5 separate regions of the Homo sapiens genome follow, and regions 2, 3, 4 and 5 are each linked to region 1. Evidence: fine-mapped expression QTL. A gene starts in region 1. Each other region holds a variant in brackets. All regions are shown on one strand. Distances are from middle to middle.

Region 1 (5,216 bases):
TTCCCAGAGACCTTGTTCTGAAGTCTGCTACAGTTGGTACTGATCTGATAGGAAATGCTTTTAATTGTTTTTCCACTTTGAAGAACTGGATGAGATTCTGCCAATGTGATGACACATATTCTACAAGGAGAAAAAGTTGATCCTGTGTGATTGCTTGGAATAATTTTTCCTCCCATAACTCCTATTGGAACAAGAATGTATGAACTGGTATTTGTTTAGTCAAACTATCATCTTCCCCCTTTTTCCTTTGGCTACTATTGGGGCATAACTGTAGAATAGAGAATACAATAATAAAAGAGAAAACAAGATTGAATTTCTTTCCCAGGAAAGGGAAGAGTACCAGAGGTCTTTAGGTAGGTAGCACTGGGGTAGAAGACAAAGAAATAAGGCATGCCTGTGTATACGAGATACCATACATGTCTCTACCGTAGCCCTTTCTGTGGGCTCTGAACAGTTCAGTAGTTGGGCACAGACTGGCCACTTCAAGTAGCAGCTGATGATGTGGTCCTCCATTTGGATGTTTGAGTAATCAAATTTATATGTTCAGAGTGGCCAGGCACTGGAATACTCATTCTTGCCAAACAAACTCCTATAATAATACCATTTCAACACAGTAGAAGATAATTAATGCATGTTTGTTTAGTGAACATTTGTTCAATCCAAGACCACAAGACCATACCAGGCTACAATACCAGGAAAAAAAAATTTTTGATAATTTAAAATTCCCAATTTGCTTACCGGTTAGAGTGCTGTAGTATACAGTGGTCCTCACAAAATTTTCCTTTGACATCTAGAAGAATACATGAGTCTGTTGGTGGCTGAAATCAATATTTACTACCACTATGTGGTACTTTCTTTGGGTCATATAGTTGATAATGAAGACTGGACACATACATGCTGCATGCTGATCACGGGTATCCCTTCATTACTCAAAAAGACATACCTAAAGGTTTCCTAGAAAGTATTTAAAGAGATCTGGCCCAGATAGAATAATTTATTCAACATTAAGGTAATTAACTCCTTGCTCCATCTTACTTTACACTCACTTCAAAATGAGTACACGTAGTATTTTTGCTAGGAAAATGCAATTAGCATCCCGTTCTTTATGATATATATTTTTTGTTGGTGGTTTCCAGGACTGTCCTGATGTTGGTGCAAGTCCGACATTCTGGGAAACCCCTCAGTCATGGGTGAACTAGGACAGGTTGGTCACCCTATGTTTGGCCAACAGAAAATATGCTACAATATATATTTTTTAAACTGAGTATAACCATTATCACTGAATGAAAGGAAGAAAGGAGAGTCCCCAACGATGCTCCCACCACTGGTTCTGCTTACACAAAACAGTACAAAAAGAATACCTACTTCTAAGTGGCAGATGGCGTCTCTTAAGGTAAATGTATAGATTCTTCTTCTTTCTAAATGTCTCTAATCTAACCCACCCTCTTCTCGCCATCCCTACTGCCTCTACCTTAGTTTCGATCTGATCATTTAAATAATTTTATGTATCGCTACTCCCTGTGAGAGTGAGCCCCTCAATCCCTCCAGGCACTTAAGGACTGTTGCAACCTAGCCCTCCGCCTACCTTTGGGGCCTCCGTTTAGAGTACTCATCTTACTGCGAGCAACACCCTAGAGCTCGCACTGCAATCGCCGGCCCCAGAATGCGCCCTGAAGTATTTCAGGCCACCAGGTCTTTGCAAATGCCATTCCCTGGGGCTAGACGGAACACAGAAGTCCAGTGCCTTCTGACGTGGGGACGGAGAGCCAGGGAGAGCGCGCGTGGCTTATGATCTGTCAACATAGTCTACACAGCATTAGGCCAGTGCGGCCAAGGAGGGATCAACATCACTCCGCACTTACCCGGTTTGTACCAGCGAGTGAAGTATCGATCCACGAGCGAAGGCACCACCGGCTCCGCGGCTTCGGGCTCGGTAGCCATGGCGACCTCCGGCGCCGCCACCCCCGCCCTCCGGGACCCCAGCGCTTCCTCCGCGCAGCCCGGACTGGGCGTGCTCTTCCGGCGCACAGCGCGTGTCGTGCGCACGCGCGCTGCTCTCAGGTCCGCAGGTTCCACCCCCCCCCCCGCCCCCCCCAATTACAGTGCTTTGGGGTTCGACATCAAAACAGAGATCAAATACAAAAGTTTGGGCAGATGGGCAAGAGGGCAGAGGGACAGGGGACGCGGCCAATGTAGCTCCTCTACCTCTACGGTGCCAGGCCTACAAAGAAGGCCGGCCGCCGTAAGTGACCAGAAGCGGGCCCGGCCTCGCCCCCTCCGCCTGGTGACGTCACTCCCGCGCCGCACTCCCAGTGCTGCGGCTGCCTAGTTGACGCACCCATTGAGTCGCTGGCTTCTTTGCAGCGCTTCAGCGTTTTCCCCTGGAGGGCGCCTCCATCCTTGGAGGCCTAGTGCCGTCGGAGAGAGAGCGGGAGCCGCGGACAGAGACGCGTGCGCAATTCGGAGCCGACTCTGGGTGCGGACTGTGGGAGCTGACTCTGGGTAGCCGGCTGCGCGTGGCTGGGGAGGCGAGGCCGGACGCACCTCTGTTTGGGGGTCCTCAGGTAAGCGATCCATCCAGGGTAGGGGCACGGGAGTGGACCTCTCCGCCGGCGGTGTCCGGGTGAAGGAGACCCGGAGCCTCCTCTGCCTGCTGCGGGCCGGGGACTGGAGTGCGGGCTGCACCACCTCTTTCCTAGAGCCTTAAATTCTTTTTGCAGCCTTGCCACCTGCTCCATCGGGGGCGCTGGGAGGCGCGACAGCCCAGGGATGCCTGCTGCCCCTCCAGCCGGACTTAACCCAGCCTCTTGATTGCTTGCAGGGGGTTGATAATAACGCTGAAAGCGAGAGTATTAATTCACGATGGAAGGCGGCGGTTAATAGAGGCTCGGGTGCTGTGGTGCGGGTCCTTTCTCGCGTGTGAGACTTTTTCGTGGAGGTGGTGTCCTCTGTGCTTCTCCATCTAACGTGGTGTTTTACGTGGCTTTCTCTCCCGTTAACGATGATCTCCGTGGAGACAGTGGCTGAGTAATCTTCAGATCCCAGTACTTAGCAAGTGCTCAGTCGGTGTTGGATGTAGGCCACAAACCGGATCGTAAAGAATTCAACTGTATATTGACAGCCACGGAACTAATCAATGAATAGATCCGTATGAAGAGTAAGCAAAAAGGCAGCAAAGACAGTTTTTCAGCTTGGGGACATAGAGTAGAAATGGTCTGTCCCCAAATAGTGGGAACTGTCATTTGGGGGAAGAATAGCAAGTTCTTTGCTTTCCAGGTCGCATTTGATGTGCATGTGAGACATGCTTGTGATTCTATCAGGAGGTTGAAAATGTGGGTTTAGTGGTAAGTTTGGGCTAATTCAGTCAGGGCTAGGCATTTAGGCCTAATCAGCGTATTGGTGATCTACCTGGTATATGTAATCATGCATGTGATGTCTAGCCAAGAGGTGGATAGTCGAAGGAGCAAGGGAAGAAAATGAAGCAGTTATCAGGAAATTAAGAGAGAATCCACGATTGACCTTTGGTGTGGAGGGATCTTTAGCACATTTAAGAACTGCGAAGAGTTTGAATCAGTGGAGGCAGGAAGGTTGGAGGTTGCAGATGTCCAAGAAAGAGTACTAATAGGCCTAGGTCCTGTGGCAATATGGAGGATATTCCTTTCCTAGCCTGGAAAGAAGTGGAGGGAAGTCTTCCTCCGAGAAGATAAGGGAATAAGGCTGATGGGTGTGAAATTTCAGAGAAACTAGTTTTGAGGCGTTTTTATGATGTTTAAAGATGAAAAACGCAGCCAGGCACGGTGGCTCAGGCCTGTAATCCCAGCACTTTGGGAGGCAGAGGCGGGTGGATCACTTGAGGTTAGGAGTTCAAGAACAGCCTGGCCAACATGGTGAAACCCTGTCTCTACTAAAAATACAAAAATTAACTGGGCATGGTGCCGGGCGCCTGTAATCCCAGCTACTCCGGAGGCTGAGGCAGGAGAATCGCTTGAACCCGGGAGGCAGATGTTGCGGTGAGCCGAGATCGCGCCATTGCACCCCAGCCTGGGCAATAAGAGCGAAACTCCGTCTCAAAAAACAAAAAAACCTGCATGATATGTTAGAGGTTCAAGTAATTTCTAGCAGTTCTTGAATATAATTGTCACCAAAACTTACTAAAATCATTGTCTTCCTCACTTCCATCATATATAAACTTACCTTTCTCTTATCCCACATTATATATTATATAATTCCTATGACACTTGACATTATCTTCTGTGTACTATTAGGATTGATTCATCTTTATTCTTTCTATGTCATACATATGTGGGGTGCCAAGATGAGAGAAGTCTCCTTGGATTAAAGTGACAATAAGACCGGTGTGGTCCTTGTAATTGCTACCCCTAACATAAGTTAGGGACTTACAATCATAAGCCTTAAAGGGATCTGAATATAAATAACTAGCACAGTAACATTTTTTTCCCCTACTTAGGTAATGTTATGCATTTAAGCAAGCCTGATTTTGCCAGACCAAAGTAGATGTCTTGTTTAGCACTCTTTTCTCACGTTTTATATTGTCCTGGGAAAAGCCTGGCCAGAAGAACAAAGTTACTGGAAGTAGTTATGTCAGGTCATCAGGGTCCTTGAAATGTTGGTCATCATTTTGAAGTAAATTGTTGTCATGTCCCAGTATTTTCTCTTCCCCTTTAGAACAGTAAATGCTTTTCTATCTTTGATTTCAGTTTTTTTATGAATGTATAAAACCAGTTTATAAATGAATAGACCTGGTGAATATTAAAGTCATTTCAGATTCTCTTCAACTGCCAGTATATAAAAATGGATTTTCAAATAGTGCTAATCAGTGGGATACCCTTTTGTTTTTCCTCATGATTTTATAAAGATGTCCTAATATGCAAAAATAAAATGTTTCCCCATTCATTTGTTCTTTCAACTTTCCCAAAGGAATAACTGATATTACATCTTTTTTGAAGAAAACATTCTAAAGTTGAGAATCTTGCCTCTCCTAAAAAGAACATAAAATAGGTTTCAGAATTCCTAATTTGTAGACCATAACTGTATAGAGTGGGTCAGGTTGCTGCTATAATCCATACATGGGTGTGTACTCAGAGAGGTAAGTTTTTTCTTTTCTTGGTTATTCTGATTCTGACTACCACTTCTTCACCCCCTGAATCATTTCATTTAAATAAATATGGTCATTTATCACTATTAAGCTATTTATT
Region 2 (5,000 bases), 33 kb after region 1:
CAGATATTTAAGTACCTTTGGGGTGAGTATCAAGGTGTTAGGAAAGCATGTTATGACTTACATAGATGCTTAGTTCTTAAGAACATGTACTTGTATCTTGTCAGTTCAATATTGATTGTCAGGTCTTTTAACTACCCTGGAAAACCCTAAGCTTTAGAGTGGAATTGGCAAGTGTATTCTACTCCTGTTTCCTCTTTTAATGAACTAACGTACTCTTAAAAAAGTGATTGATGACTATCGCAGGGACAAAAAACCAAACACCGCATGTTCTCACTCATAGGTGGGAACTGAACAGTGAGAACACTTGGACACAGGAAGGAGAACATCACACACCTGGGCCTGTCGTGGGGTGGGGGAGGGTGGAGGGATAGCATTAGGAGATATACCTAATGTAAATGACAAGTTAATGGGTGCAGCACACCAACATGGCACATGTATACATATGTAACAAACCTGCACATTGTGCACATGTACCCTAGAACTTAAAGTATAATAAAAATATATATATAAATAAATAATGCCAGCATTAGAGAAAAAAAGTGATTGAAATTGCATGTTAAGTGTTTTAGCAAATGTTGATGTTGATGGTTTTTTGCAAAGAGCGCATCAGCTATTTGTGAACTAGATCTGTGAATCTTGCAGAGTCACCTTCTCTGGCTATTAAACCATGGAAGAACTCTGGTGGATTTCCTGTTCGGTTTCCTTATCCATGCACCCAGACCGAATTGGCCATGATTGGAGAAGAGGTAGGTGAACACGGAGCAGGAAATTTACTTAAAGTAGTTACCCAGGGACTGATGGCATTAAGTAGAAAGAGCGTGGGCTTTGGAGGTGGACTTGGGTCTCCACTAAATGCCTAGACAATAGTGGGAAATGATCTCACTTTCATAAGCCACACCTTATTCATCTATAAAATGGGAAAATCAGTATCTGTCTATCAGGGTTCAGAAGACTAAATGAGATAATATATGTGATTAGCAACCTTTTATCCCTAGTTGTACAAATCATTCAAAGTTAATTTTATTTAGGAGGGGAAACAGAAATGTGATCTTGAGAATAGTTTTAGTAGATTTTTATTCAACACATACTAGAATGCCTATAATTGTGGTGGATGGTAGAATGCAGTGGCTGGAAAACAAAACCGCTTGACTAATTCCTGCTCTTCTGGAACTTGTGATCTATTAATTTCAATGTAATGATTCCCTTTGTTGGGAGTGTGATGGAAATGGACAGAGTATACTGGTAGAGAATACTGAGATGTTTGAGGGGTAATTTGAGGATGGTGGCTATGAGAATGGGAGTCCTGCATCTGGTGGTCCAGGAAGGCCTCTCGGAGGCAGTGATGTGTGTGCTGAGATGTGAAGAAAAAGAAGGCTCTGTCTCCAGGCAGAAGGAACAACAAACTCCTTGAGCTTAGCAAGAGCTCATCTTATTCAAGGGACTGGATGGAAGTATTGTGGCTGGAGCTCAGTGACAGTCATAGGAGGGAATTTGGGTTCTTTAATTGAACAAAGATTAGAAACTTCTTGTGATTTTTAATAACAGAGTAATGTGTTCTGCTTCATGGTTTGGACAGTGATTCTGGCTGCCCAGAAGAGACTTGATTGGAGAGTGACGAGACTGGAATATGGGATCAACACCGGTTGAGTGGAGTTAGTGAGGGGAAAAAGGAGATGGGTTTGAGATATGTGTAGGAGATGGAGATGTCAGGGCTCACTGATGGATTGGATGGCTTCACATTCCATTTTGCACTGGACCAGCCACGTCTTAGGTATCTATCTTTAGTCCTGATTACAGGAACTTAGGTGTGAAATCATAGGGTGGTAGAACTATGTGATAGAAAAGGTAGGTTTAACTGATTTGAGATAGAATTGCTTGTGATTTCAGTTTTATTTCTTTGCAGGAATGTGTCCTTGGTCTGACTGACAGGTGTCGCTTTTTCATCAATGACATTGAGGTATCAAGGCTTGGTTTGGTGTTGGATCCTTTTCACAGTGTTAGCTCCGAGTAATCTAGCTAGCTTTCACCCATGCCTCTCTGGCCTTCTCTTGCAGGTTGCGTCAAATATCAC[G/A]TCATTTGCAGTATATGATGAGTTTTTATTGTTGACAACCCATTCCCATACCTGCCAGTGTTTTTGCCTGAGGGATGCTTCATTTAAAAGTAAGTTTTCAATGTATAAAACAGAAATGGTCCCTTCTCCAATGTCTTTTGGAGTCTTGATGACTTTTTGAATTCTTCATTTATTTTGGCTTTTTATCAAGGAGTCCTAGGCTGGAGAAAATCTTTAGAGTTATTTTACTTAGACCCTAATCTCAACATAATATCTCAGTTAAATCATTCTGCACTTTAGTAAAGACATCCAAGGAAGGGAGTTCCTTCCTTAAGCAGCACATTCTAAAGTTAAAAACTTTTCAGGAAATTTTATTATGTAACTGATCTAATATTTTATTTGGAATTACTATGTAGATCCCCAATGTTTTACCTTCTGTGTAGTCTTTTCCCACTGTGCCCACCCTCCACTGTACATCTGCGCTCCATCTAGTGGTTTGTAGGATATTGGCTGCATTTTGTCTTCTGTTCCATGCCCTATCTATCTCTGTGTGTGTGGCGTGTATGTGTGTGTGGCGTGTATGTGTGTGTGGCGTGTATGTGTGTGTGGCGTGTATGTGTGTGTGGCGTGTATGTGTGTGTGGCGTGTATGTGTGTGTGGCGTGTATGTGTGTGTGGCGTGTATGTGTGTGTGGCGTGTATGTGTGTGTGGCGTGTATGTGTGTGTGGCGTGTATGTGTGTGTGGCGTGTATGTGTGTGTGGCGTGTATGTGTGTGTGTGTTCCTTATTCTAAAAAGCCAACTTATTTTCTTTGCTTCCAACTTGGAAATAGGGAATCTTTCTTTCATTGATATGATTATAGTACACTGATAATGCTAAGAAATAGAGAAGTTGCCCCAATTCTTAACTGTGTTTCTCCACATCATTTGAGAAGCTGTGTATGTGAATGTGCATGAGGGCTCTGTAAGAGAGAGGGCAAGTTCCAGGGATGAGCGTGTTCATCAGCAGGGCTGATAGTCTTGAGGTTCAGTGGGAGAGCTAAGGCACATGGTTGTTATTTGTTCTCTTCTATTTCACATAATGTGTGCGGTTTCAATTGCAGTTAATGGAGAGTGGCTTGTTGTGATAATTAAGGCTTATTAGTTAATGGTGTGTTTAGCATTACAGGCCGGCCTGAGCAGCAATCATGTGTCCCATGGGGAAGTTCTGCGGAAAGTGGAGAGGGGTTCACGGATTGTCACTGTTGTGCCCCAGGACACAAAGCTTGTATTACAGGTAAGCTGGTTTTTCAGACAAGATAGATAGTCTGATTGTCATTCAGCCAAGTACCAAGCATAATTCTTGCAGGTTGTATTTTAGGCTTTCTTATTCTTTGTATCGTTTATTGTAAACCTTTCCTTGATAGTTTTCTGTTAGCTTTATTCAAAGGAGTGTTGATACAGGCTGTGACCATAAGGCTCAAAGCGAAACTTTTCTTGAAAGTCAAGATAAATATAGAGAACAACAAGATTCTGCTAAAAGTGTGCTGATTTTAGAGAGTTGTGGTAATTCTCTGTGAAGAGTTAGGTAAAATGGTGTATCCTGGCTATTTAAATGTTTTCTACTTAATTAAAAATGTTACTGCTTTAATTTATTTAAGATGCCAAGGGGAAACTTAGAAGTTGTTCATCATCGAGCCCTGGTTTTAGCTCAGATTCGGAAGTGGTTGGACAAGTAAGTGCCATTGTACTGTTTGCGACTAGTTAGCTTGTGATTTATGTGTGAAGACAATAAGTATTTTATTACAATTTCGAGAACTTAAAATTATGAAAAGCCCTCATTACCTATATCATCAATCAGATTCTTAGAGGCTCTTTTTTTTTTTTTTAACTTTTTTACTTTAATGCAGTATTTTGTAGTGGAGATTCCTAGCAGAAAGAATCGTGACACTCATCATATAAAGGAGGGCTTCTCTTAACCTGAGGGAACACATGTGGGTTTTAGGTGGCCTGTGAACCCAGGGAGATTGTACACACCAAACCTTGTCTTTGTGTATTTATTCAAGTAGAAAGCCCACAGCTTTCAATAGATTTACAGCGGGGCCTATGACCCAGAAAAGCCTGAGCTACTCTTGTGAAGGAAATGACTGATTTTCTGAACCTATTTGGAGGAAACTTTGTATTGGAAAGATCTATACTAATGTTTTGTTTAAAAAGTAGACCTGAATTCCATGATGATTTTCTTTGTTTTTTTTTTGAGACAGAGTCTTGCTCTGTCACCCAGGCTGGAGTACAGTGGCGCAATCTCGGCTTACTGCAACCTCTGCCTTCTGGGTTCAAGCAATCCTCCCACTTCAGCCTCCCGCATAGCTAGGATTACAGGTGTGCACCACGCCTGGCTAATTTTTTTTTTTGTATTTTCAGTAGAGACAGGGTTTCACCATGTTGGCCAGGCTGGTCTCAAACTCCTGACCTCAAGTGTTCTGCCCACCTCGGCCTCCCAAAGTGCTAGGATTACAGGTGTGAACCACCGTGCCCGGGCTTCTGTAATGATTTTCTGTTGTATGTATGTGAAGATGTAGTTCTCAGACAGTCATGATGACTAAATTACACCTTTTAAGAAGGTAAATGAATGTGGTACCTGATTTTTTTATTCTGTAATTTCAGAGTAGAAATCCAGTGATAGCAGCTTGGCATTGGGGCTGTAATCTGATTATAACTGGTTTGTATCATAATGAAAATATGCTGGGCCCATGGAGCTCAGTTTTTGTGAATATCTTTTCTATTCTTTCTCTGTCTTCTCACAGACTTATGTTTAAAGAGGCATTTGAATGCATGAGAAAGCTGAGAATCAATCTCAATCTGATTTATGATCATAACCCTAAGGTAACTTTCTAAGCTGTCATTTACTCTAGCTTACTTTGTACTTAAACTAATATGATCTGAACGAAGATGTTTTGTCCTTTTTTTGG
Region 3 (5,000 bases), 22 kb after region 1:
AAGCCCCCAAGTGATTTTAAACAGCCGCAGTTGAGAACCACCGATTAACCAGTGTGTCAAGGGATGGCACTGTGATATGCTGAGCATAAAAATATTGCACAGGATGAAACCCTGTCTCTACTAAAAATGCAAAAATTAGTCCGGCGTGGTGGTGCGCGCCTGTAGTCCTAGCTACTCGGGAGGCTGAGACAAGGGAATCGCTTGAACTGGGAGGCAGAGGTTGCCGTGAGCCGAGATTGAGCCACTGCACTCCAGCATGGGTGACAGAGTGAGACTCCATCTCAAAAACATGTATATATATATATACACACACACACACATTGCACAAGAACAGCCACAACATCTGTGCTCACAGAACATCAGCATGTGGTCTAACTTCAAAGTGTTGTAATAATGCGGTTTGAGACTAGGTTATGTTTGCTGTGATCACTAAGTTAAGCATTAGTGAGCAAGGAGATTGAGAAAATCCTTAATATAAATAATATTTCTTAATATAACTATAATTCCTAATATAACTAAGGTCTTAATTTATATGTCATCTGTTTAGTAAAGGTTGGTTTTGGCATGATTAAGTCTTGCTTGCTTAATAGATGTTGGAAGGATAATTTCATGCTTATCTTCTTTGGACAGCTGAATCAGGATTAATACCCAGATAGCCTTGAACATAAGTGCTTGCAAAGCACCTGAAAGAAAATAAGCATCTTAAGCCCAATACAACACAATGATGCTAGTCTAGATCTTGGATTAAGTGTTTTAATACTTTTACTCTAATTGCCAAGTTATCTTCTTCCTAAATCTTCATGAGAAAACCCACTAAAAGAATGCTTTTTCCTGGTAGCCTTCCATTGTGATCATAAAGTTTGGAAGTAAAGTTGAAAATAAACATGTGGGCCAGGCACGGTGGCTCAGGCCTGTAATCTCAGCACTTTGGGAGGCCGAGGCAGGCGGATCACAAGGTCAGGAGATCAAGACCATCCTGGCTAACACGGTGAAACCATGTTTCTACTAAAAATACAAAAAAAAAAAATTAGCCGGGTGTGGTGGTGGGCGCCTGTAGTCCTAGCTACTCGAGAGGCTGAGGCAGGAGAATGGCATGAACCCGGGAGATGGAGCTTGCAGTGAGCCGAGATTGCGCCACTGCACTCCAGCCTGGCCGGCAGAGCGAGACTCTGTGTCAATAAAAAAAAAAAAAAAACGAAAATAAACATATGAATAAAAGTTAAAAATAGAAAAAAAACAAGAAAATAAACATATATTTCTGACCTTATTGATTCTTGATATTTTATCTGCATGGAAAGCTATTTTTTGGCAGTTATTATTGTTCTTATTTTAGAGACGAGGCTGAGCAGGAAGGGTCCTTTGAAAAAGAAAAGATTGCCCTTGAACCCCTCTGGCAAGTGGGATGAAGTCTGCTTCCCAGCCTCTAACGGCCTTCTTTTCATTTTCCCTTGCAGTTCAGCTCTGGACTGTTGGAAACTATCACTGGTATCTCAAGCAAAGTTTATCCTTCAGCACCTGTGGGAAGAGCAAGATTGTGTCTCTGATGTGGGACCCTGTGACCCCATACCGGCTGCATGTTCTCTGTCAGGGCTGGCATTACCTCGCCTATGATTGGCACTGGACGACTGACCGGAGCGTGGGAGATAATTCAAGTGACTTGTCCAATGTGGCTGTCATTGATGGAAGTAAGCTCCTGGGAAGTGTGTCCATGAGCCTGCAAGGGGTCCTGAGCCTAGGGCCTGCAGATGTGGTGGTTTGACTGGAACAGTGGGGAATCTTTATTTGTTTTGGCTGTTTGGGTTACTTGTTTTTTTATTGAATGGGATATAAGGTGGGGTATGTTCTCTCCTGAGAACCATTGTCCCCCCTCCCCCACCAGTTTCCTGTTATACTGCATCTGTGGCCTTCACACGTTTACTTGCCTGGCCTTTGAAGACACTGAAAACTTTGACTCTAGGTAGAGAGGATGACAACAGTACAGTCTTGTGGGATTGGGTGTGTTAGCTTTATCTGTTTGCCCTGACACAGATTTATAATTGACCCTTATACCACCCCACTTGTGTTGCTTTGTTTCCTGATACAAATGCTTGCTGATATATACCTCTCCAGTATGTTCAGTTCATGCATAAACGTTTGCCTAATATGAAGATTAGGTTTATATTTTATAATGAGGTAGAAGGTTTTTTTAGGGGGTGGGGTGGGAAGGGCAAGACTGAAGAGTGAAGTAGTCACCTTAATGAATAGTTTCATTGCTGATATGAAAGGGAGCACTGGCTTCTAAGATTGTAATGTGAGGTGGTATATTAATTCATATTCTGTGTAATATTCTACATAATACTGATTTTATAGTCATGTATTCTATATAGAGAACTTAATCAGATCTGCGTTATTACCAAATCCACACATAGGAAAGTGCTTTAAGGATTTTGAAAGTATTAATTCCCTTGGTTTAGTGTGGCTTGGTTGCAGGCCCAGGTTTAAAGCTAGAGGTCTGACCTCTTGGCCTTTTTGCCTTAGTCCCTGGCACCTGAAACTCCAGGTACTGAGATGGACTCCCCTAGGCCTAGAGGTGACAATAGCCAATTATGGACAGAACCCATGACATTTCCCCATCCCACACTGTTTTTAGACTTGTTCCTGAGAAAAACATTGAAAGTTATTTTTTTGTGAATTGCCATTATTGTTTAGATATACTGTGATGTTCAGATGGCTTATCTTACAAATTGAATATCCCTAGGTCTAATCCTCTTCTTTCTTTTTCACTGCAGACAGGGTGTTGGTGACAGTCTTCCGGCAGACTGTGGTTCCGCCTCCCATGTGCACCTACCAACTGCTGTTCCCACACCCTGTGAATCAAGTCACATTCTTAGCACACCCTCAAAAGAGTAATGACCTTGCTGTTCTAGATGCCAGTAACCAGATTTCTGTTTATAAATGTGGTATGTTATAAAACTTTTGCCAAGATGTTCTGAATCAAGTCCCTTCTACTCCTACATAAAAGCAAATTATAGTTTGGTGTTGCCATAGGTCTAGTGTTTCTCAAAATTTTTAAGTCTGCAGTTGATATCATTATCATTATGATATTTAATTG[C/G]CTTGGGTTTTTGTTTTTTTTTTTTTTAATCCTATACTGGTTTGTACGAGCCATTCCTTTTCCCTTACTGACTTGAAGAGTCAGTTATTTAAGAATAACATTGGACTCTGGAAATAACATAGTATGTTATACATTGTTAACATGTTTTACTCTTTTCATAGCCTTTACACATATTTTCAGTTGATCTCATCCCTCCTAGGAGCTGTGTCAGAGATGGGGTTTTCCTCTTTTGTAGATGAGGGAACACAGTGTCAGAGGTTTTGTAATTTGTTTGAACAAGAATGGACAAGGACCTCAACACAGGTGTTCTAGCTCCTAATCCACTTGTCCTGCCACAGCCCCATTGCTGTCAGTTCTTCATTACTTTCCTGATGTGCTGGAGAATCTGAAATTTGTTTTTACTTGTGAGTTCTGTGGTTATGTCATAAATTCTGCTGGCATATGGCAGTGTTAGCCTTGTTTTCAAATATCTTTTGAATTCTCAGAAAAAGCCTAGATAGTTGCCAAGAGAGAATAATCAAAATTAATTAATTTAAATGGGAAGTCCTTACTTTCATATCAGCTTTTCTGTTAAGTCAGCAGCCCACTGTGTACATGGATCCTATCTGGATGTATCACCAGTTTCTCTGATTATAGTTTCAGTGTGTAAAATGCTGTTACAGTCCTCCTTAAACTTTTCAAAATAGCTTTAAAAAAAAGTGCAAATATGTTCATTGTCAAGGCAAAAAGAATCAGATGTAAGCTTTTGTGGGACTTAACTGTATGATGCTAATGAGTTTATATGTCACTTTATGATGTATGGTATGTTTTGTTCTGCATTCACTTAAAAAATAGCTTTATATCATTCATCTATTTAAAGTGTACAATTCAATGGTTTATATGTGTGTGTATGAATATATATACATATGTATATGTATATATATGTATATTCACAGAGTTGTACAGCCATCACCACGATCAATTTTAGGACGTTTTTATCTCCTCAGAATGAAACCCTGTACCACCCTGCATTCATTTTACTTGAGAGAAAACTCCCTGTGATGAGATAGGACAGGTTGAGAGCTCCACTTTTGAAAGATTGTTCGGCATCAATATGTGGGGTTGGCCATAGGTCAGGGGCACCTGGAGGCAGAGATTCTAGTTAGGAGAAGCTGTTGTCAAGTGTCCAGGCAGGAGCTAGCAAGAGCTTGAGCCAGAGCAGTGTTCATAGAAATGGAAAGAAGAGAAAGATCATAACAAATCCATGAAGTAAAAACCCTGAGAAGTTAAAGAACCCACTGGGGAGAGTTTGGATATAAGAGAATCTGGAAAAAGAGATCTTGGACTGGAACAGGTCAGGGCTCCGTGCCCAAGTGGAAGGGAAATTAAGAACTTGGAGTCAAGTGGTAGACATTTGAGTGGTGTGGAGACAAGTTCGTTGCCAAAGTTTTCAAAGATGGTGTTTGATGCATCCTGAGTATCACTCCTTTTTCCCCCTCATTGCTTCTTGATTGTTTATTATATGCCAGGCTTTTTTCTAGTACTTGGCTTGTTGTACTAGAAAACTAGTTGTACTTTGTCTACAACTTGTTGTTCTAGGTGTAGACAAAAGATATCAATTAAATATGATCTATCAGATGGCAAGTGCTGTGGAGAAAAATTAAGCAAAATAAGGGGTAGGGAGAGCTTAAGGATAAGGGTTTACAGGGGGAAGGTGTCTTTCCTATTTAGTGTGATCCCAAAGGCCTCTCTGTGAAGGTGACATTGAAGCAGAGACCTGGTGAGAATCACAGTGGGAGCCACGCAGACATCTGGGGTAAGAGCGTCCCAAGCATTCTATGCTTGAAGGCAAAGAAGAAAAAAGAAAGAGCGTTCCAAGCAGAGTAAAAAGCAACCACCGAAGTGCCTGTTGTGTTTAGGAAATAGCCAG
Region 4 (5,000 bases), 39 kb after region 1:
TATTGGTCAGTAGTATGCCGTTGTGTAAATACACCACTATTTGCTTATTCATTCCCCTGTTGCTGGACATGTGGATTGTACTACCCTGTTTGGGGCTAATGTGACTAAAACATCTACAAACATTTGTATAAGTCTTTTGTGGACATGTTTTATTTCTCAATATTTTTATAATTCAACTCTTTTCCAAAAGTCATTTTTATTTATCATCATCAGCATGCCAGGTGTATGTTAGTAATTTGATCGCTGGGCTACATGTTCTGTTGATGACCATTCCATACACACCTGTTCTTAGAGAAGAAGATGTCACGAAGACCATGTACCCTGCACCAGTTACCAGCAGTGTCTACCTGTCCAGGGATCCTGACGGGAATAAAATAGACCTTGTCTGCGATGCTATGAGAGCAGTCATGGAGAGCATAAATCCTCATAAGTATGTATGCTGTCACCAGGTGGCATCCTTTGAAAAACCGAAGTGTGTAGTTGTCCTTGTCCAGCCTACTTACCTTTCTCATTCTGGTGTTCTTCACTTATTACCTCAGATACTGCCTATCCATACTTACATCTCATGTAAAGAAGACAACCCCAGAACTGGAAATTGTACTGCAAAAAGTACACGAGCTTCAAGGTAGAGATCCGCTCACAGAGAAAGTGCTTAAGGTGGCCGTGACTGCTACTAGTCTTCTGCAGGTGACAATCACCATGTCATTGCCACACCACAGATTTAACATGTGACTTTTTAGTTGCCATTTTAAGACCCTTGTCAGTTTTTTTCAGTGCTGCCCTCTAAAGCATATATAAAAGTATCAGAAGTATATATTCTTCTGATGTCCAGTTCTATTGAGAAAAATTTATTGTCTTTTTGGTTATGTTGTTAGGTCTGTGGATTTTTTCCCCAAATGATTGTGTTCTGTTTTGTTTTCTAAACACTGTTAGGAAATGCTCCCTCTGATCCTGATGCTGTGAGTGCTGAAGAGGCCTTGAAATATTTGCTGCATCTGGTAGATGTTAATGAATTATATGATCATTCTCTTGGCACCTATGACTTTGATTTGGTCCTCATGGTAGCTGAGAAGTCACAGAAGGTATGTGGAGTTCTTACTTTTATGCCATTTGGTTCTTGTTTATATAATGATAGTGTGAAACCCTGCTTCTGGTAGTGCAGTAGCTTTTCTGCTATCACTCTGTGAGTGCAGGGCTGGAGACAGATCTGTGAGTTTCTAGGGCCCACATTCCTAAGCCCCTGTGCTTATGAAAGTGTTTTGATTGTGAGGTTGAAGAAGTGAAGTAAAATTGCATGGCTTTTTTTTGTTTCTTTTTTTTTGAGACGGAGTCTCACTCAGTCGCCCAGGCTGGAGTGCAGTGGTGCGATCTCGGCTTACTGCAAGTTCCACCTCCCGTGTTCACGCCATTCTCCTGCCTCAGCCTCTCTAGTAGCTGGGACTACAGGTGCCCATCACCACGCCCGGCTAATTTTTTGTATTTTTAGTAGAGACAGGGTTTCACTGTGTTAGCCAGGATGGTCTCCATCTCCTGACCTCGTGATCCGCCTACCTCAGTCTCCCAAAGTGCTGGAATTACAGGTGTGGGCCACCATGTGCGGCCTAAAATTACATGGTTATTTTTAAGATGATGGGCATATGTGTGAGCTAATTTCTTCTCTTATAAAGGAAATGTAACAAGTGGTTCATGTTCCACTCCGGTTCTTTCTCACATGGCTCTTTTTTCTAGTGGAGGGTGGGCACATGGAGCACAGAAGGCTCATGGCCTCCTTTCCTATGTTGGTACATTTGCTATGATCAAAAACTTTGAACACCACTGGTATGCATATTTTTTATTTATTTTTTTGCAGCCTCAGTCTCTTCCCCATGACCTCTCCAAAAATGAAAATCGGATCCTTCATCTCTCTGCTTAAAATACTTCATGAGCTCCCATTGTTCCGAGGATATAATTCAGAAGCCATAATACTGCTTAAAAACCCTTCCTTGACCTGGCCTCTGTGTATCTTTCCATTCTCACTTCTTGGTATTGTCTTTTTTTCCTCTGCCCATGGAGGAAAGACAATGCTTTTGTCCCCCTTCCCTTGCCCCTCACCACCACATGCCTTGGTGGGCAGCATTACTTCTGCCATCCATGGGCTTTGACTGCTTCCACCCTCACCATTCCCCTGGCTAATTCTCACTAATCTAGGTTAAAGGATGCCAAGGTGGCCTCTTCCCAGTAAGCCATTCATGCTTCCCTCCAGGGACTGGGTGAGGTGACCCTCCTATATGCTTCTGTTGCACACAGTGCCTACCCCTGCAGACTACAGTGTGTCTTTATCTAGAGTGCGGTATTTATTTATTTATTTTTGAGACAAGGTCGGGCTCTATCACCCGGGCTGGAGTGCAGTGGCACCATCTTGGCTCACTGCAACCTACGCCTCCTAGGCTCAAGCAATCTCACCTCAGCTTACAGGCGTGCACCACCATGCC[C/T]GGCTAAGTTTTGAATTTTTTTTGTTGAGACGGGGTTTCGCCATGTTGCCCAGGCTGGTCTCAAACTTGTGAGCTGAAGCAATCCATCTGCCTCGGCCTCCCAGAGTGCTGGGAATGAGCACTTAATTATTTGTTGTCTTGGGTTTTCTTCCTATGTTGTTCTTACATGTATTTATCCTGTCAGCCCAGGGAAATTGCATTAAAAACAGGAAACACCTCTCCATTAGGAAGAAAAACAATTTGCTTACAGGGCATGGCATAGAGCTGGAGATGATAGTGCCAATAAATACTAGGTTGGCAGGGTCTCAGAGTTTTGTGTCCAACTCAGTATAATTTTATGTTTGTTTTAATGTGATCATTTCAGGAGAGCATGGAATGTCATGAAAACAGCACCAAGAGCAATGTCTTAGACTTTTAGGAGAAACTTAGATGCATTTGTTGAATATCTTCTAGACTGAAACCTTATTTCCCTTATTAGCCTATGAAATAAATGATACTGTGAGACTTAGTTAAGGAAGTTACTATTATTCCAAGTGTAACTTATTAATATCCGTATGTGAAAGCATTTTTGCCAAAGCTTGTTTGATGTTCAGCTGACCCTTGCACAACGTGAGTTTCAACTGTGCGAGTTTGAACTGTGTGGGTTTATCTAAATGTGGATCTCTCTCAAACACAGTTGGCCCTTTGTGTCCACGGCTTCTGCATCCACAATCAGTGTGGATCAAAAGTACAATATTTGCAGGATTTGAAACTTGCAGATACAGAGGGCCAACATTTTGTGTATCCAGGCTCCATGGGGTCAAATGTAGGACTGGGGTATGCTTGGATTTTGGTATCCTTGGGGTGTCCTGGAACCAATTCCCCATAGATACTGGGGGACAACTGTAGTTTGATTTTATATATTATATAATATGCAGTTAATATATAATACACATTTAAAAATTATGTAGCTTTGGGTTTATTGCTATATGTAAATGCTAGTTTCTATTCCTATATATGAATATCACAAGTAATAAAGTTCTCATTAATCATTTTTTTAGGATCCCAAAGAATATCTTCCATTTCTTAATACACTTAAGAAAATGGAAACTAATTATCAGCGGTTTACTATAGACAAATACTTGAAACGATATGAAAAAGCCATTGGCCACCTCAGCAAATGTGGTAAGTGTGGGGATTAGTATGTTTATCTCTACTTCAGATCTTCTTTGGAACTAGGCAAGGTATAAATTAAACTGTTAGTTTAGACAGTGACTGATTTCACTTCCCACTCCTGAAAACTCTAACAATTATGTATGCTCACGTTATTTTGTCCTGTGTTCTGAAAAGCTGAAGGTAATCACTTTTAATGAACTGGAGGAGCTCCCTAGGTAAGAACGTCAAGTAGATCCTTTTTTGGTTAAGAATGAGCACCTGTGAAGTTAACTTCAGTGTCTCAGAATCAAAATTGGTTGTCAGTTCTTCCTTCTCATGCTGTTTGCAGACATGTCAGGGAAACTCTGCTTGTCTGGAGAGAGTGATGAGGCCACCTCCCCGTGCCCTGCAAGACGCAGTTTTAATTGACAGTGATGGGGTGCCAGTTGTTCTTCCCATGCTGGAACAGTTGTGATTCTTTACTGAGGACTGATGGGGGAAAGGAAGAATCACCTGGGGTGCATGTTAAGCCTTCAGCTGCTGGCATCCTTGGAGAATCTGATTCAGGTGGTCTGGGATAGGACTGAGGCGTGCATGTGTCTAATAAGCTTCCCAGGTGATGTCTTTTCAAGGAGGCTGAGAAAACACTGGGCTGGAAAGCTGGGACTCTTAAGTAGGATGCTGATCCCAATCAGTGCTGCTCTTGCCTCAGAATCTGCAGTGGTGCTCATTAAAAATTCAAATTCCAGGATCCCATTCTTCAGATTCTCTGATTATTTAGGTCTTAAAAAGTTCCTCATTTATTTTGTTTGGTGACCATTGGTATAAATGAAGTCCATTATGCTTCCCATGTCTTAAGCCTGTCTTTGTGTGAATCTTTTTCCTGCAGGACCTGAGTACTTCCCAGAATGCTTAAACTTGATAAAAGATAAAAACTTGTATAACGAAGCTCTGAAGTTATATTCACCAAGCTCACAACAGTACCAGGTATGTGGTATGTGAAAATGAGGCTCTCCTGGTTTTGCTTTTTGCTTTAGTAGGAAAGGAGTGAGGATCCTAAGTTCATAACACCATCCTTGGCTTCAAAATTTATCTTAAAACTAATTAGCCTCAATTTGAACTTCTTATCTGGGAGAATGGTCCTGACCTGTTCTCTGATTCCTCATCTGGAATACCACAGCACCTTCCTCGTGGGGTTCCCTGCTTCTTTCCCACCCCTCCTCTAGCCCAACCTTACTGCTGTAAGTCTGATTATCCTAACAAGTACAGATCTTTCCCATATATTTCAGCATAAAGGGAAATTTTTGTTTGCTTGAAAAAGCATCCCTTTAGCTTTTTTTATATACCACACACTTTGCTTCTAAGTTAAATGTGTTATATGATCCTCTTAACAGC
Region 5 (5,000 bases), 56 kb after region 1:
TTAGCCAGAAACATTTAGGTAATTTTCTTCTTATTTTTGTTAACTGAGCTCCCCTCCCCTACCCCCCCTTTTTTTGTTTGTTTGTTTTGTTTGTTTGTTTGTTTTGCCAATCCTCCCTTGCTTTAGGTATCAAGTCTTCGTTCAGGTGATTTTACAAGTTCAGTGGTAGCGCATATTCTGGGATAATGTTGATGAACTCTAAGATCTGGAATCTCAGTCTCTAATTTGTTAATGCTTATTAAGGAAAAAGAGCTCGCTTGGAAAACCTAGTAACCTCTTTCTTTTTGCTGAATTTTAACCCTCCTTCACTGCTCCCCGCCTTTAGTTTTTTCTCTTTGCTTAAACCTCATGCTCAAACTATTTTCCATTCTGCATCTCCAGCCCAGAAAAATTATATGGCATTTCTGGACTCTCAGACAGCCACATTCAGTCGCCACAAGAAACGTTTATTGGTAGTTCGAGAGCTCAAGGAGCAAGCCCAGCAGGCAGGTCTGGGTGAGTATCTGCGTGAAGGCCATCGACGTGCGGGGGCAGTGGGGTTGGGTAACGCCACACATTGTCTAGATTGCTTGGTGATCCGCCTGCAATCTGATTACTGTGCCATGGGCAAGTGTGAGGCTTCTGTGGAGCCCCTTCAGGGCCCTCTGTGTCTGTGTTTGTGTGTTGGTGAAGGGCAGGACCAAGCATGAATGGGGAGAGCTCTGCCAGACATTCCCACCTACCCCCATTCACCCAGAGCAGCTGACCACTTCCGTGTCTAACAAAATGAGTTTCCTCATTTCCAGAAAAAAGTTCAGGAAACTACTGATTTACATTAGTAATTACTGTATTTAATATTATCTCATTCATTTTGAGATCAACTTTGCAATCATTTTCATCCATCCTTTGATATGCACCAGTTGACTCTAGTTAGTTCATTTACCGCCCTGAAAGTAAACCCACACATTAGCAGGCAGTGTTTTCATCGGCTTCTGGTTCTTCTTTTCTAGATGATGAGGTACCCCACGGGCAAGAGTCAGACCTCTTCTCTGAAACTAGCAGTGTCGTGAGTGGCAGTGAGATGAGTGGCAAATACTCCCATAGTAACTCCAGGATATCAGCGTACGTATCACATTGATTCAGCACATTGACTATATCCTGGGCATATAGGGAAAGTGGAAGCAAATAGATTGGTTTTCTACTGGGACGGTGTAGTGGGAGTGGGGAGAATATTCTTCAGCGCTGTGTGGAAGTTGTTCAGACACTTTCCCAGCATATCTGAGACATTAAACTTGGCATTGGAAGGTTTTCTTCCTCAGCCTTGTGGCTTGTGTGTTTTCCCATTCCCCACGAGGCAGTTCCTCCCCTGAATGCTCAGTTTATATTAACATCTGATTTTATTTTTTGAACAAATGTTGTGACTAAATTATAGGCACTGAAAAAATGAAAAGATAAGCTTCTTCAATTCAAAATCAGGATTGGAAGAGACCATAAATGTAAAATAAGTCATAACACTTTTACCAAATATAGTAATTTGTCAGAAATATTTATTCAGCACTCATATGGTAGGTGCAGTAGATGTTACCAAAAACTTATAAGGAGATATGAGTTATAAGAGTTTATAGTCTTGCTTGGGATGTGTAAAGCAATGCAAGATTATATATTCAAACTGAATTTTGCTTTAGGAATTTAAAATGGAGATCTGTGAAGTTGTGTGGGGTCATCAGCAACTGCAAGAAAGTAGCCAGGCAAGGTAGCACATGCCTGTAGTCCTAGCTACTCAGGAGGCTTAAAAATATCTGTGTAATTTCTAACAGGAGATCATCCAAGAATCGCCGAAAAGCGGAGCGGAAGAAGCACAGCCTCAAAGAAGGCAGTCCGCTGGAGGACCTGGCCCTCCTGGAGGCACTGAGTGAAGTGGTGCAGAACACTGAAAACCTGAAAGGTATATTCTCAGTCCTGATGATGATTCCTGACCACAAACAATAGTGAATAGGCAGTACAGACAGGCAGAGTTCAGTAGGTGATTAAGCTACCATTTTCCCAATTTGAGGAAAGATGAGAACTTTTAGCAGGAAGGGTCATGTCTGCACACATTCCTGAAGCAGCCCTTCTTAGCTGGTAACTGAGAAGCCTTCCTCCATTTGGCATCCCCCTAACTGAACTGGGAGAGATGCTTAGGCCAGGATAAAGAATTGTGGGACACTGCTTTCTGC[G/A]TAGGCCCCCCAGCGTGCTTGATTTTCTTTTTGTAGTACATGTGTTTAATTATTCCAGCATTTGGGAAGAAAAAAGATAATGTGGGAGAAAGGACCTGCAGTGGGATCATAGAAATTTTTGGCTTTGGATAGAAGCTATGTATGATTCTGTCAATGGAGCTGGGAATATAACTTACCACTCTTTCAAATTTCTTCTCTCTAGATGAAGTATACCATATTTTAAAGGTACTCTTTCTCTTTGAGTTTGATGAACAAGGAAGGGAATTACAGAAGGCCTTTGAAGATACGCTGCAGTTGATGGAAAGGTCACTTCCAGAAATTTGGACTCTTACTTACCAGCAGAATTCAGCTACCCCGGTAAGTTTTCTCAGAGACGGTGTGCATTTTTTTCATCATTTTCATGGGTTATTGTATTCACACAATCTCCAAGTCAAAAAGTTTTCCTGTTCTTAAAACATAAGATGCCATAGTTAAATTATCTTAGATTTATGTGTAAGCTGTCAGTAAGATTTGATATTTGCCTGTAGAGTGACTAGTATACCTTGGCATAGGTTAAATGGACTGTCATTTTCCTTTCTGGATGAAGTAGCTGTCATGGAGAAAATGGGAAAGTCACATGATTGCTCCTGGCCTTCAATGAGGTTGGAGTGGGGAGAGATGGGGGAAGATGGGGTCAGAGACGGCCTCTCACTTTCCTTTCAGAACTCAGGGATGGGATCAGGCTTTAAAGGGACCCCAGGCAATTGCTTTTCCTTTTGTTTTATGAAAAATTTGACTTGTCACTTCTATGTTGTTATGATGGACTTTGCGGGTTGTGTTTAAGGCTGAATCAGCTTTGTATCGCAGAATTCTAGTATATTGTCATCTGTTTATTATTTATACCTCTGTTCACTCTCTTATACTTCAAGTCTATTGTTAAGAGTTTTTATTTGGATTCAAAAAGGCTGGTGTATCAGTCAAGATCTAGAAAGGAAAACAAAAGCCTATCTATTATTTTATCACAGAATTTAATATATGGATTTGTTAAATAAGTATTAGAGGACTAAACAAGGCAAAAGGGAAATACAGAGGAAGGACATTGAGATAGTAACTGTAGGAAGCAGCTTTACCCTCTAGCTGAGGGAACAGGAGGAGTTGTTGGGAATTATTAGAATTTAGAAGCCTGGAAGTGGGGCCCTGTAGAGCTGGCTCTTGAACCTCTGAGAGGAGGGTGCCAGCCAGCTAATCCTGGCATTTCTGAGGGAGCTGGTTCCAAGCGTACAGAAGTAAATGGAAACTGGAAGGAACAGCTGCTGCTGGGGGAAAAGCCAGCCGGTCGGGCCAGGTGTGGTGGTGGCTCACGCCTGTAATCCCAGCACTTTGGGAGGCCAAGGCAGGCGGATCACCTGAAGTCAGGAGTTCGTGACTAATGTGGCCAACATGGAGAAGCCCCGTCTCTACTAAAAATACAAAATTACCCGGGCATGGTGGCGCATGCCTGTAATCCCAGCTACTCAGGAGGCTGAGGCAAGAGAATCGCTTGAACCTGGGAGACAGAGGTTGTGATGAGCCAAGATCGTGCCATTGTACTCCAACCTGGGCAGCAAGAGCGAATCTCCGTTTAAAAAAAAAAAAAAAAAAGCCAGCCAATCACGGAAGAAATCTAGAAATCTTTTGTTCATCCTCCAGCTTTGTACTCCCCCTCTGGTGTTCACTGTAGGCAGGACATGATGGGAAGCCAGCAGCAAGGAAGAATATCTTTCAGGTGCCCAGCCCCAGCACCACAAGCAGTGGATAGAAGGGTGGGTTGGAGCTGAGAGATTACAAATCAGCTCAGTGTTTAGAAACACATACGCTTATCATGTCTTGATTTCCTCATTTAGAAATGGGCATAAGACTTCTCTGTGTGCTTCAATAGAATGCTTTGAAGGTTAAATAAGAGGGTGTGTGTAAAAGCACTTTACAAACCGTTGAAATAAAAGCAACTAGGAATCAGGGCCCCAGAACTTCTTGAATTTATTATAATAGGTATTTCTTAGAAGAAATGTGATCATCATCTTCAAAACTGTAGTACTTTTGAAGATAATTGTTTTTGTTTTTTGAGACAGGGTCTCACTCTGTTGCTCAGGCTGGAGTGCAGTGATCACCGCTCACTGCAGCATCCACCGCCCCGGGCTCAGGTGATCCTCCCACCTCAGCCTCTTGAGTAGCTGGGACTACAGGCGCATGCCACAACACCTGGTTAATTTTCAAATTTTCTGTAGAGACAGGGTGTCACCAAGTTGTCCCCGCTGGTCTTGAACAACTCCTGGGCTCAAGTGGTCTGCCCACCTCACCTCTCCAAAGTGCTGGGACTATAGGCATCAGCCACCATGCCCGGCTTGAAGATAATAATTTATAATACCACTCCCATGAGTGATCTTCTCTTCTGATCACATATTCACATTAAGGTCTATTTTATTTTATTTTTTTCTTGCTCTGTCACCCAGGCTAGAGTGCAGTGACAGTATGATCAATCATGGCTTGGTGCAGCCTCGAATGCCTGGGCTAAAGCAGTCCTCCCACCGCAGTCTCCTGAGTAATTGGGACCACAGGTGCACACCACCATGCCCAGCTAATTTTAAAATTTTTTCCTAGACATGGGGAGAGGGAGTCTTGCTGTGTTGCCCAAGCTGGTCTTGAACTCCTGGCCTCAAGTGATCCTCCTGCCTTGGCCTCCCAAAGTGCTGAGATTACAGGTGTAAGCCACCATGCCTCCCACATTAAGTTCTAAGACATCAATTTTATGATTGTGGTTTTGATTGGTGAAGTATGGTTGTGGTATGT

Evidence for each region. PIP is the estimated chance that this variant, and not a neighbour inherited with it, causes the effect.
Region 2: its variant is fine-mapped to the expression of ELP1 in sun-exposed skin (GTEx, PIP 0.96).
Region 3: its variant is fine-mapped to the expression of ELP1 in nasal epithelium (TOPMed, PIP 0.96).
Region 4: its variant is fine-mapped to the expression of ELP1 in thyroid (GTEx, PIP above 0.99). The same link has a PIP of 0.9 or more in aorta.
Region 5: its variant is fine-mapped to the expression of ELP1 in whole blood (INTERVAL, PIP 0.98).

What each region holds. Positions count from the first base shown.
Region 1 is chr9:108,931,212-108,936,427 of GRCh38, reverse strand. It overlaps ELP1 (elongator acetyltransferase complex subunit 1), which reads left to right and starts at 2,304. Exons shown (of 37, transcript NM_003640.5): 1 at 2,304-2,564. It overlaps ABITRAM (actin binding transcription modulator), which reads right to left and starts at 2,028. Exons shown (of 6, transcript NM_017832.4): 1 at 1,863-2,028; 2 at 739-790; 3 at 1-120. The coding sequence starts at 1,941. RefSeq lists a silencer at 1,802-2,081 and an enhancer at 2,832-3,061.
Region 2 is chr9:108,898,585-108,903,584 of GRCh38, reverse strand. It overlaps ELP1 (elongator acetyltransferase complex subunit 1), which reads left to right. Exons shown (of 37, transcript NM_003640.5): 15 at 1-22; 16 at 643-746; 17 at 1,904-1,957; 18 at 2,055-2,160; 19 at 3,210-3,325; 20 at 3,690-3,763; 21 at 4,836-4,914. Among named protein-coding and RNA genes, the nearest start is that of ELP1, 33 kb to the left of the region's middle. The variant G/A (reference allele first, on the strand shown) is at 2,072.
Region 3 is chr9:108,908,949-108,913,948 of GRCh38, reverse strand. ELP1 (elongator acetyltransferase complex subunit 1) reads left to right here. Exons shown (of 37, transcript NM_003640.5): 11 at 1,455-1,685; 12 at 2,769-2,939. Among named protein-coding and RNA genes, the nearest start is that of ELP1, 23 kb to the left of the region's middle. The variant C/G (reference allele first, on the strand shown) is at 3,092.
Region 4 is chr9:108,892,578-108,897,577 of GRCh38, reverse strand. It overlaps ELP1 (elongator acetyltransferase complex subunit 1), which reads left to right. Exons shown (of 37, transcript NM_003640.5): 23 at 293-430; 24 at 540-625; 25 at 934-1,082; 26 at 3,512-3,635; 27 at 4,495-4,592. Among named protein-coding and RNA genes, the nearest start is that of ACTL7A, 33 kb to the right of the region's middle. The variant C/T (reference allele first, on the strand shown) is at 2,472.
Region 5 is chr9:108,875,547-108,880,546 of GRCh38, reverse strand. It overlaps ELP1 (elongator acetyltransferase complex subunit 1), which reads left to right. Exons shown (of 37, transcript NM_003640.5): 32 at 382-495; 33 at 990-1,101; 34 at 1,797-1,924; 35 at 2,398-2,552. Among named protein-coding and RNA genes, the nearest start is that of ACTL7A, 16 kb to the right of the region's middle. The variant G/A (reference allele first, on the strand shown) is at 2,196.